Linked DNA regions of Homo sapiens: all the other regions are linked to region 2. The links come from fine-mapping of genetic effects on gene expression. A gene starts in region 2. Each other region holds a variant in brackets. All regions are shown on one strand. Distances are between the middles of the regions. Region 1 has its middle 8.3 kb from the start of MIR6131. Region 2 holds the start of ANKRD33B (ankyrin repeat domain 33B). Region 3 overlaps ANKRD33B (ankyrin repeat domain 33B).

What was found. PIP is the estimated chance that this variant, and not a neighbour inherited with it, causes the effect.
Region 1: its variant is fine-mapped to the expression of ANKRD33B in fibroblasts (GTEx, PIP 0.96).
Region 3: its variant is fine-mapped to the expression of ANKRD33B in whole blood (TOPMed, PIP above 0.99).

The regions. Positions count from the first base shown.
Region 1 is chr5:10,468,386-10,471,140 of GRCh38, forward strand. It overlaps a transcript of ROPN1L not described here. Among named protein-coding and RNA genes, the nearest start is that of MIR6131, 8.3 kb to the right of the region's middle. The variant G/A (reference allele first, on the strand shown) is at 1,528.
Region 2 is chr5:10,562,863-10,565,617 of GRCh38, forward strand. ANKRD33B (ankyrin repeat domain 33B) reads left to right here and starts at 1,208. Exons shown (of 4, transcript NM_001164440.2): 1 at 1,208-1,971. The coding sequence starts at 1,606. RefSeq lists silencers at 792-1,651, 1,992-2,041 and enhancers at 1,271-2,165, 2,166-2,755, 2,182-2,391, 2,712-2,755.
Region 3 is chr5:10,606,046-10,608,800 of GRCh38, forward strand. The region is part of intron 1 of ANKRD33B (ankyrin repeat domain 33B); the gene reads left to right. Among named protein-coding and RNA genes, the nearest start is that of ANKRD33B, 43 kb to the left of the region's middle. RefSeq lists a silencer at 1,201-1,250 and an enhancer at 1,921-2,170. The variant G/A (reference allele first, on the strand shown) is at 1,362.

The sequences.
Region 1 (2,755 bases), 94 kb before region 2:
CAGGCAGAGGGCTTCCTCTCATCAAGGAAAACACGTTCCCTATTCTGTTGATTTTGACTCTTCTTGTTACAAGGCTGAATCATCTATGTTCCCCTTCATAGCCTGCAGTTATTTCTTGTTAAAATAGCCATAGGTAGTTGGGCTTTCAGTCAGATTGTTGCTTGTCTTTAGGGGGTAACTCAAATGGTTTATTTAATAACTACAAACTTTATTGCAAATATCATTAACTGGTCAAGATGTTGAATAAAATAAACTGTTCAGGTGGCTGGTGTGTTTGAAGAAAGTAGCTCTGGGAGGAGAACAGCAGAAACTCCCTTGCTGCAATGAACATGGGAGGAGGTGCCTGAGGACCCTAACGGGATTGATAGGGGCTCCAGTACAATAATGGGAGATTTGCTATCACGTGGAGAGGAGGCCACATCTGGATTTAGCACCTCAAGAGTCAAAGACAATTTTTCCAATTGAAGTCACTTTAAAAATAAACTTTGGGCTGGGCGCAATGGCTCACGCCTCTAATCCCAGCACTTTGGGAGGCCAAGGTGGGTGGATTACGAGGTCAGGAGATCGAGACCATCCTGGCTAACACGGTGAAACCCCGTCTCTACTAAAAATACAAAAAATTAGCCGGGCGTGGTGGCAGGCGCCTGTAGTCCCAGCTACTTGGGAGGCTGAGGCAGGAGAATGGCGTGAACCTGGGAGGCGGAGCTTGCAATGAGCCGAGATCGTGCCACTGCACTCCAGCCTGGGCGACAGAGCAACTTTCTTTAAAAAAATAAAAATTAAATAAACTCTGAAGATGATGGAGCGTTTGCTGGCACTGTGGCTCATGCCTTAATCCTAGCACTTCTGGAGGCCAAGGTGGGAGGATTGTTTGAGCCCAGGAGTTTGAGACCAGCCCTAGCAATGGAGTGAGACCTTTTCTCTACAAAAAAATTAAAAAAAAAAAAAAAAATCAGCTGGAAGTGGTGGCATACGCCTGTGGTCCCAGCTACCTGGGAGGCCAAGGTGGGAGGATAGCTTGAGCCCAGGAAGTTGAGGCCACAGTGAGCTATGATTGCATCACTGCACTCCAGCCTGGGCGATAGAGTGAGATCCCGTCTCAAAAAAAGAAAAAAAAGTTCCTGGCATTCATACGGTGTGACTTTGAAAAACACCTGCTTTTCCTTAATTGCAGTGTGGGGAGGGGGGTGGTGGGAAGCAGAATTGAAAAAGCTACAAGATGCAGATGAGTGGACAGTGGTTTTATCTTATGACTTAAAGAATGCTCTGTCCCATTGAAATATGTGTCTTAAGTCTTTGTCCAGGCAGCAACGAGTGGCTTATTTGGTTTCAAGCTAACTTTATTTGTTGGCTTCTGTATTTTTCATCTCTAAAGAAAGTGGAGTATATTTCTTCTGTTGGTTTATGAGGTATAGGAAAAGAATGAAAGCAGGGATGACTCCAGAAATACGTGCTTACCCAGCATGGTGGAGTTCTGAGGTGGCTGGGCAGGGCCAATGATTTGCTTTTGAAATGATTGTGCTAAGA[G/A]TCACACATTGAATTTACGATTAGTTGTTATTTCTTGGCAATCACTAACATACTTGTGAATTCTCATTGTGTGAGAGAATCTAACTTACAAATCGTTTTCAAATGTAGTGAGATTTTTATGTATACTAAATTTAGCAATTAATGAGGAATGAACACAGAAATTAATCATTTATTGAGTCTGATTTTGCTATTTCCGTAATTTGCAGCCAATAATTTTTTTCAAGTCTTAAACATTCTCAGAGGTCGATGAAACCCTTGTCAGCCTGCGGCTTTGTGCCTTAGCATCTCAAGAATGAAATGTGTTCAGGTCCCCCGTCCTCCAAGGAAAATCCCAACTCTATTATGTTGCTTTGTACAATTTGTACAATTGTACAATCCCCTGGTTATTGAAGGGGATCCCCACCAGGACCCCATGAAGTGGACAGAAGTAGGATTAACCCCCTTTAGAGGGGACTGGCCTAGAACTAAGATGCCAGGGGCAGCCAGGTCCTCCTTCTGCCCAGGGTCCAGGCCCACCCACCTGGCCTCACACTCCTGTCCCTCTCAACTCTTCCATCCAACAGCATTCCCCGTATCTGTCCCATTTCCCCGTTCTGGCTTTTGGTAAGGCCAGAAGCCCCCACAGGTGAAAGAAACTGGATAGGTGGGGTTGGGTTGATGTCCACTGTTTCCTGGAACCTTCATGCTTTCCCCGAGGTTGGAGCAGGGATCCCACGCTTTCCTGTGCTGAGTTGGAGCCAGTTGGCCTGGGATATGGAATGGCTTTCTGGGCACATGTCCCACCTCAAACCCCAGTCCCATTCTTGAATCTCACGTAAAGTATTAGCAGGGCGTGATCAGGAGAGCCACACAGCATCCATGAAGTGCCCTGGCCGTGGGGCCTCGGGGCCGGAAGGACATTTGGGTTGGGATAATATTCGGGCTTAGGTGAAAATGCATTTACCCAGCACCTGCTAAGGGCTGGCCCCCCTGCCACGTACGGGTTTTGCAGCTAATTAAGTTCTCATCCCAGTGGCAGGGAAGGCTGCTGTCATTACCCCTGTGTTATGGAGGCACACTTCCTTGTCCAAAGTCCCCCGGGTGGAAAGGCAGGGACTGTTACTGGGTCCTGGCAGTCCGACTCCAGAGCCTTGGAGCCCAACTCCAAAGGAAAGGTGAAGAGTAAAGTGGCTCTTGGGGAGGGGACAGTGATGAGTGGGAGAATTTGTTCCTTGATTCTCTTTTCTTT
Region 2 (2,755 bases):
AGGCGACCAGGACAGCGGGTCGGGCCAGTGCGGTGTGACACGAGGGCTCGAGCGGCTTCGCAGTTTAAACGTGTCCTCATCCTACACCTCCCACGGCTGTTTCGGATTCGGTGCCCTCGTGCCCCTCAGCTTGCCCAGCGGCACGTGGGCCTCAAGCCTGGTCCCCAGCGGCTGCGCCAGCCTAGCTGTGTTCACCTTGGGGCCGCGAGGGCCTCCCACCGGCTGGCAGCTGGTGGACACGCTGTCAAGATCGGGGGAAAAAAAGGAAGGAAGGAGGCTAGGGGGACACAGGGCTGGTGGCCTCCGCAGTCTTTGACCTGCGACGGGCGCGAGCGCACCTCCGCGCCTTTGCGCAGAGACCTTCCCCCAAGATTGGCTCACGACGCCTCCTACCCCGAAGTCAAGGGCTCCCTGTGGCAAATCCTCACACGCCCTCCTCCTCCCCGCCCATCCCCGGCGCCAGGACTGACGGGGAGAGGGCAAGGCCGGGCCAGAGGGGCTGTGGGCCTGGACTGCGGCTGTCGCCCGCGGCCCTGCTCTTTTGGGCAGCCAGACGTGGGGTCAGCGCCCAGTCGCAGCCTCCGGGGGTGAGTCCGCAGATCCCCGCACGTGACACAGGCCAGGCATGGGGACGGGGAGTTCCTCGTCGTCCGTTCCCACTCAGATGCTCCCTGAGGTTCCGGAACACCCCGCCCCCCATCCCAGGATCTGACCAACCCTCAAGCCACGGCCGGCCCCGGTTCCGCGAGACGGGGGACTCTGAGGATTGTCCTCCCTTCCGGGCTGGGACTCCCCCACAGCAGCCGACCGCCCCCAGTTCAGAGTGGCCCGGCCCGCAGCGCTCCCCGGGCACAGGTCCCAGGTGGACGGCTCCGCTCCCGCGCCCGGCTCCTCTGCCCGCCAAGCGCCCCGGGGATTCCCCGGCCTCCAAGCGGCCGCGGCCGGGTGGAGTCAGCCCCGAAGCCCGGGATCCCCCGAAGGGAGAAAACCCGCTCTGCTCCTCTGAAGCGGCGGGAGAAACCGGCCCCACCCAGGTCCGGGGGCCCGACGCCCTCGGCGGAGGCCGGCTCCAGGGGTCCGAGGTTCCCGAAGCTGGAGGCCGGCTCCGCCCCGGCGTCCCCCCGCCGCCACCTCCGCCCCCATCCCGCGGGCCGGCGGAGGGAGGGGCGGGGCCGCTTGCCGCCCGCGACTCGGGTTCGGCTTCTTTAGTGATTGCTTCTGCTTCTCCCGCGCCAGCTGTCCCCAGCTCTGGGGCAACGCTGCCAGGTGCCCAGTCCCCGCGCTCGAGAGAGCGCCTGCCTGGCTCTGAACTCTGGCCAGGAAGGGGCGCGAGGGGAAGGCCCCGGGGGAAGGCGTGTCCCCGCGCCCCGCCCCGCCCCGCCTCGGAAAGCCCCCGCGGTCCCGCCCACCCCAGGGGCTCGCTCAGCCTCCGGAGACTTTTTTCTTTGAGCGCAGCCGCCTGGTGCCGGTTTCCGCCGAGCTGGAGCGCGCGGGCCACGGCTTCTCTGGGGACGCAGAAGCGAGAAGCGGGGACCTCGGCGCGCGCCCCGCGTCCCGCTCTTCCTGCCCGCGCCCCGGCCCCCGGCCCGCGCCCCGGCCGCCGGCATGGTGCTGCTGGCCGGGACCGGGCCGGAGGGCGGCGGGGCGCGCTGCATGACCCCACCACCGCCGTCCCCACCCCGGGGCGCGCAGGTCGAGGAGGACCCCGCTGACTACGAAGAGTTTGAGGACTTCTCGAGTCTGCCAGACACCCGCAGCATCGCCTCGGACGACTCTTTCTACCCTTTCGAGGACGAGGAGGAGCACGGCGTCGAGAGCGCGGAGAGCGTCCCGGAGGGCGTCCCGGAAAGCGTCCCGGAGACGGCGACCCTCCTGCGCGCCGCCTGCGCCAACAACGTGGGGCTGCTGCGGACGCTGGTGCGGCGCGGGGTGAGCGTCGAGGAGGCGCAGGAGACTGACCGCAACGGCAGGGTAAGCGGGCGTCCCCGCAGGATTTGAGCCCCCTCACTGCCCCCACTCCCCTCCTCCCCACCACATCCCCGCGCCTCCCAGCTCCTGGCTCCGGACCGGTCCCTCGGTCACTCAGCCGCCGCCCAGAGCGCCTTTTCCCCGCTGTTTGGGAGCGCGGTGCCCTGGGTGGCTTCCCCGTCTCAGGCTGGGGGACGCGGTGCGGGGAGGGAGCAGTCGAGGTGTCAGCGCGGCAGAAACGCCAGTCCGGCGTCCTCACCGCATCCCCTTCTCGTTTACCGGTCCCCGTGGACCTCCTGACTGAATTCGCGCTGGCTGCCCGTGCTGCAATCCAGGATGGGCTTCTTGCGGCCCGGTCCCCTCCTGACTATTACCTTTCCCCAGGTCCCTGGCAGGGGACCATTCCTCCTCCCCTGCAGGAGACAGCCCCTCCTGCCCAGCGCCCCATTTGGCCCCTGGGCCCCTCGCGCCGCCCTTGTCCTAACACGCTGGGGCGCAGATCGGCTCCTCCAGCCGCAATGATTTGGAAGCAACAGTTTCTTCCCTCGCCGGGACAGCTTGGTCCCCTACCCCACCTCCGCTGAGCTTTGTGGCCCGCGCCGCGACCAGCCAACGTGATCTCTGACTGGTCTGTCCGCAGGTCACCTTCGCGAGCCAATGCCAGCCGGGGCTCCCCAGAGTCAGGGCATAGGGAGAGCCCCAGAGCCGCGGGCATCCACCCGGGTAGGGCAGGAGGCGTGGAGGCAGGCACAGGCTATCCTTTCGTTATGACCAGATTCAGAGAAAA
Region 3 (2,755 bases), 43 kb after region 2:
TGCGTGGAAACCACTCCCAGTGTTGGGAAAATTAGATGAGCCTCTGAGATAGGAATAGATTAGGTATATACATGAAGTTGGCAGAGGGAATACAGTTGAACAAAGTAGTGGTTTCATACATTACTAATCTAAAATCATAAATCCCAGCGAGAGGTTTGCAGTGATAATAAGATTTACGTTTTATGCAAAATTTAGTCTAAAGGGAAATTGTTTTGAATTACTGACAACCTTGAATTTATCAAATCCTGATTACAGGGCTACAAGGTGACCCCATGTTGGAAGGAATTATCTTGATGTATTTTACATATTTATTTATTTTATTAATAAAATGTCATTTCTTTATTTAAAACAGTTTATTAGGCATCTCTTTATTTGAAGCAGAAAAGCATAGATAAAAATACAAATATTGGCCTGGCACAGTAGCTCACGCCTGTAATCCCAGCACTTTGGGAGGCCAAGGTGGGCGGATCACAAGGTCAAGAGATCGAGACCATCCTGGCCAACATGGTGAAGCCCTGTCTCTACTAAAAATACAAAAATTAGCTGGGCGTGTTGGCGAGTGCCTGTAGTCCCAGCTACTCGGGAGGCTGAGGCAGGAGAATCACTTGAACCCACGAGGTGGAGGTTGCAGTGACCTGAGATCGTGCCACTGCACTCCAGCCTGGCGACAGAGCAAGACTCTGTCTTTTTTTTTTTTTTTTGAGGTGGAGTCTTGCTCTGTCGCCCAGGTTAGAGGGCAGTGGCGCAATCTCAGCTCGCTGCAAGCTCCGCCTCCCAGGTTCATGCCATTCTCCTGCCTCAGCCTCCTGAGTAGTTGCGATTACAGGTGTGCGTTACTACACCTGGCTCATTTTTTTGTATTTTTAATAGAGACAGGATTTCACCATGTTGGCCAGGCTGGTCTTGAACTCCTGACCTCAAGTGATCCACCCACCTCAGCCTCCCAAAGTGTTGGGGTTACAGGCATGAGCCACCACGCCCAGCCCATTTTATAAGTACATTTTGTGCCCAATCAAGTATCAAAGACATAATCTTAAAATAAAGGACAGTTCTTCCCAAGGGAAAAAGAAAGTAGGCAACCTGACACATGAATAGATGATGTATGCTACTGTTACACGCACACACACACACTCAGAATAGACTGTGATGCTGTGATAACAAACCACTTCAAGTCCCAGTGGCTTAAAATAACAAAGGTTTGCCTCTCGCTCATTCATGCTGTTGTGCGCCGGCTAGAGGGGGCAGGGCTCTGCTCTCTCTGCCCTCACTCCGGAGGCCCAGTCTGGGAGCAGTTGCATCTCTGAGCTTCAAGGGCAGTCAAGTCAAGAAAAGGGAAGGTGGCACATCGTCCACCGTCTCTC[G/A]AAACTTCCTCCTGGAAGTGACACCTGCTATTTCACTTACGTTTAATTACCCAAAGCAAACCAGATGGTCAAGTCAGAACTCAGAAAGGGTGGGGAAATGCAATTTTACCAAGAGGCAGGAAGAAATAGATAACGGAATAACGCCAGTGAGTACTGCAGCTGAATCCAGTGCAACTGAATTGTCCTGGTTCAAACAATTAAAAAAGACTTTGTGTGTGTACTTTCACCAGCTTCTTCACAGACCGTCGCCCATACTTGAGTGAATCTTCCTCCTGTGCATGCTACTGTATATGATAAGTGGAAGAGAATAGAGAGTGTTGTCAGGGACATTTTTGAGGAATACTGAAGTCTACTTGGGACAGTGAAACACACTGGACGATGAGCTTCCAGCTGCTTGTTTTCCTGCTGGACTGTCTGTGAGTTCATCTTCTTATTTAAAGCTCCTTGTTACTGAGTGCCTCCTAGCAGCAGTTTCCTTTAGCCCTCTCTAGGAGGAGCACAAATGCCTATTCCTGGCAGCCTGAGCATGTCGTCTTAGGCGTCCTCTCGTGACCTGTGGTCTGGTGTTTTGCACAATCTTCATCACCACTCCTTCTAGAAGGACTGAGAACTGAATTTGACTTTTAAAACGAAGCTTGGTAATCAAGAATAGCAACAGCAGGCTGAGTACGGGGGCTCACGCCTATATTCCTAGGACTTTGGGAGGCTGAGGCGGGTGGATCACTTGAGGTCAGGAGCTCGAGACCAGCCTGATCAACATGGTGAAACCCTGTCTCCACTAAAAAAATACAAAAAAAAAAAAAAAAATGGGCGTGGTGGTGCATGACTGTAGTCTCAGCTACTCAGGAGGCTGGGGCAGGAGAATCGCCTGAACCCATGAGGCGGACATTGCAGTGAGCCAAGATTGTGCCACTGCACTCCAGCCTAGGCAACAGAGCGAGACTCCATCTAAAAAAAAAAAAAAAAAAGAGCCGTGGTAGTTCTGAAGGGGAAGAGCAAGGAAGGTTTCTTCCCTGCAAAACACAAGGCTGCAGTAGCGAATCAGGATTGCCTTGGGGCTGAGGTAGATTGTTAGACCAATGGGAGCAACTCTCAGGTTCATTCCTGTGTTTATGGGGAGGTGGGATGAGCTTGAGCATGCTGTTACTACCAATGGGAAAAGAATGGATGTGTTCATATATTGTGCTAGGAAAACAGAAAAAGGTAAAATTAAACTTCTATAATAAAAACCATGGTGGATTCAAGACCTCACTATGAAAAAAAAAAAAACTTGAAACTGTTGAAATTAAATACAGAGGAATATCTTTAGGGTTTTTGAATGGGAGGCATTGCTTAAACGCATGACAAAAAGCATTCCTATAAAGGAAAAGATTAATAATATGACTGCATCGAAA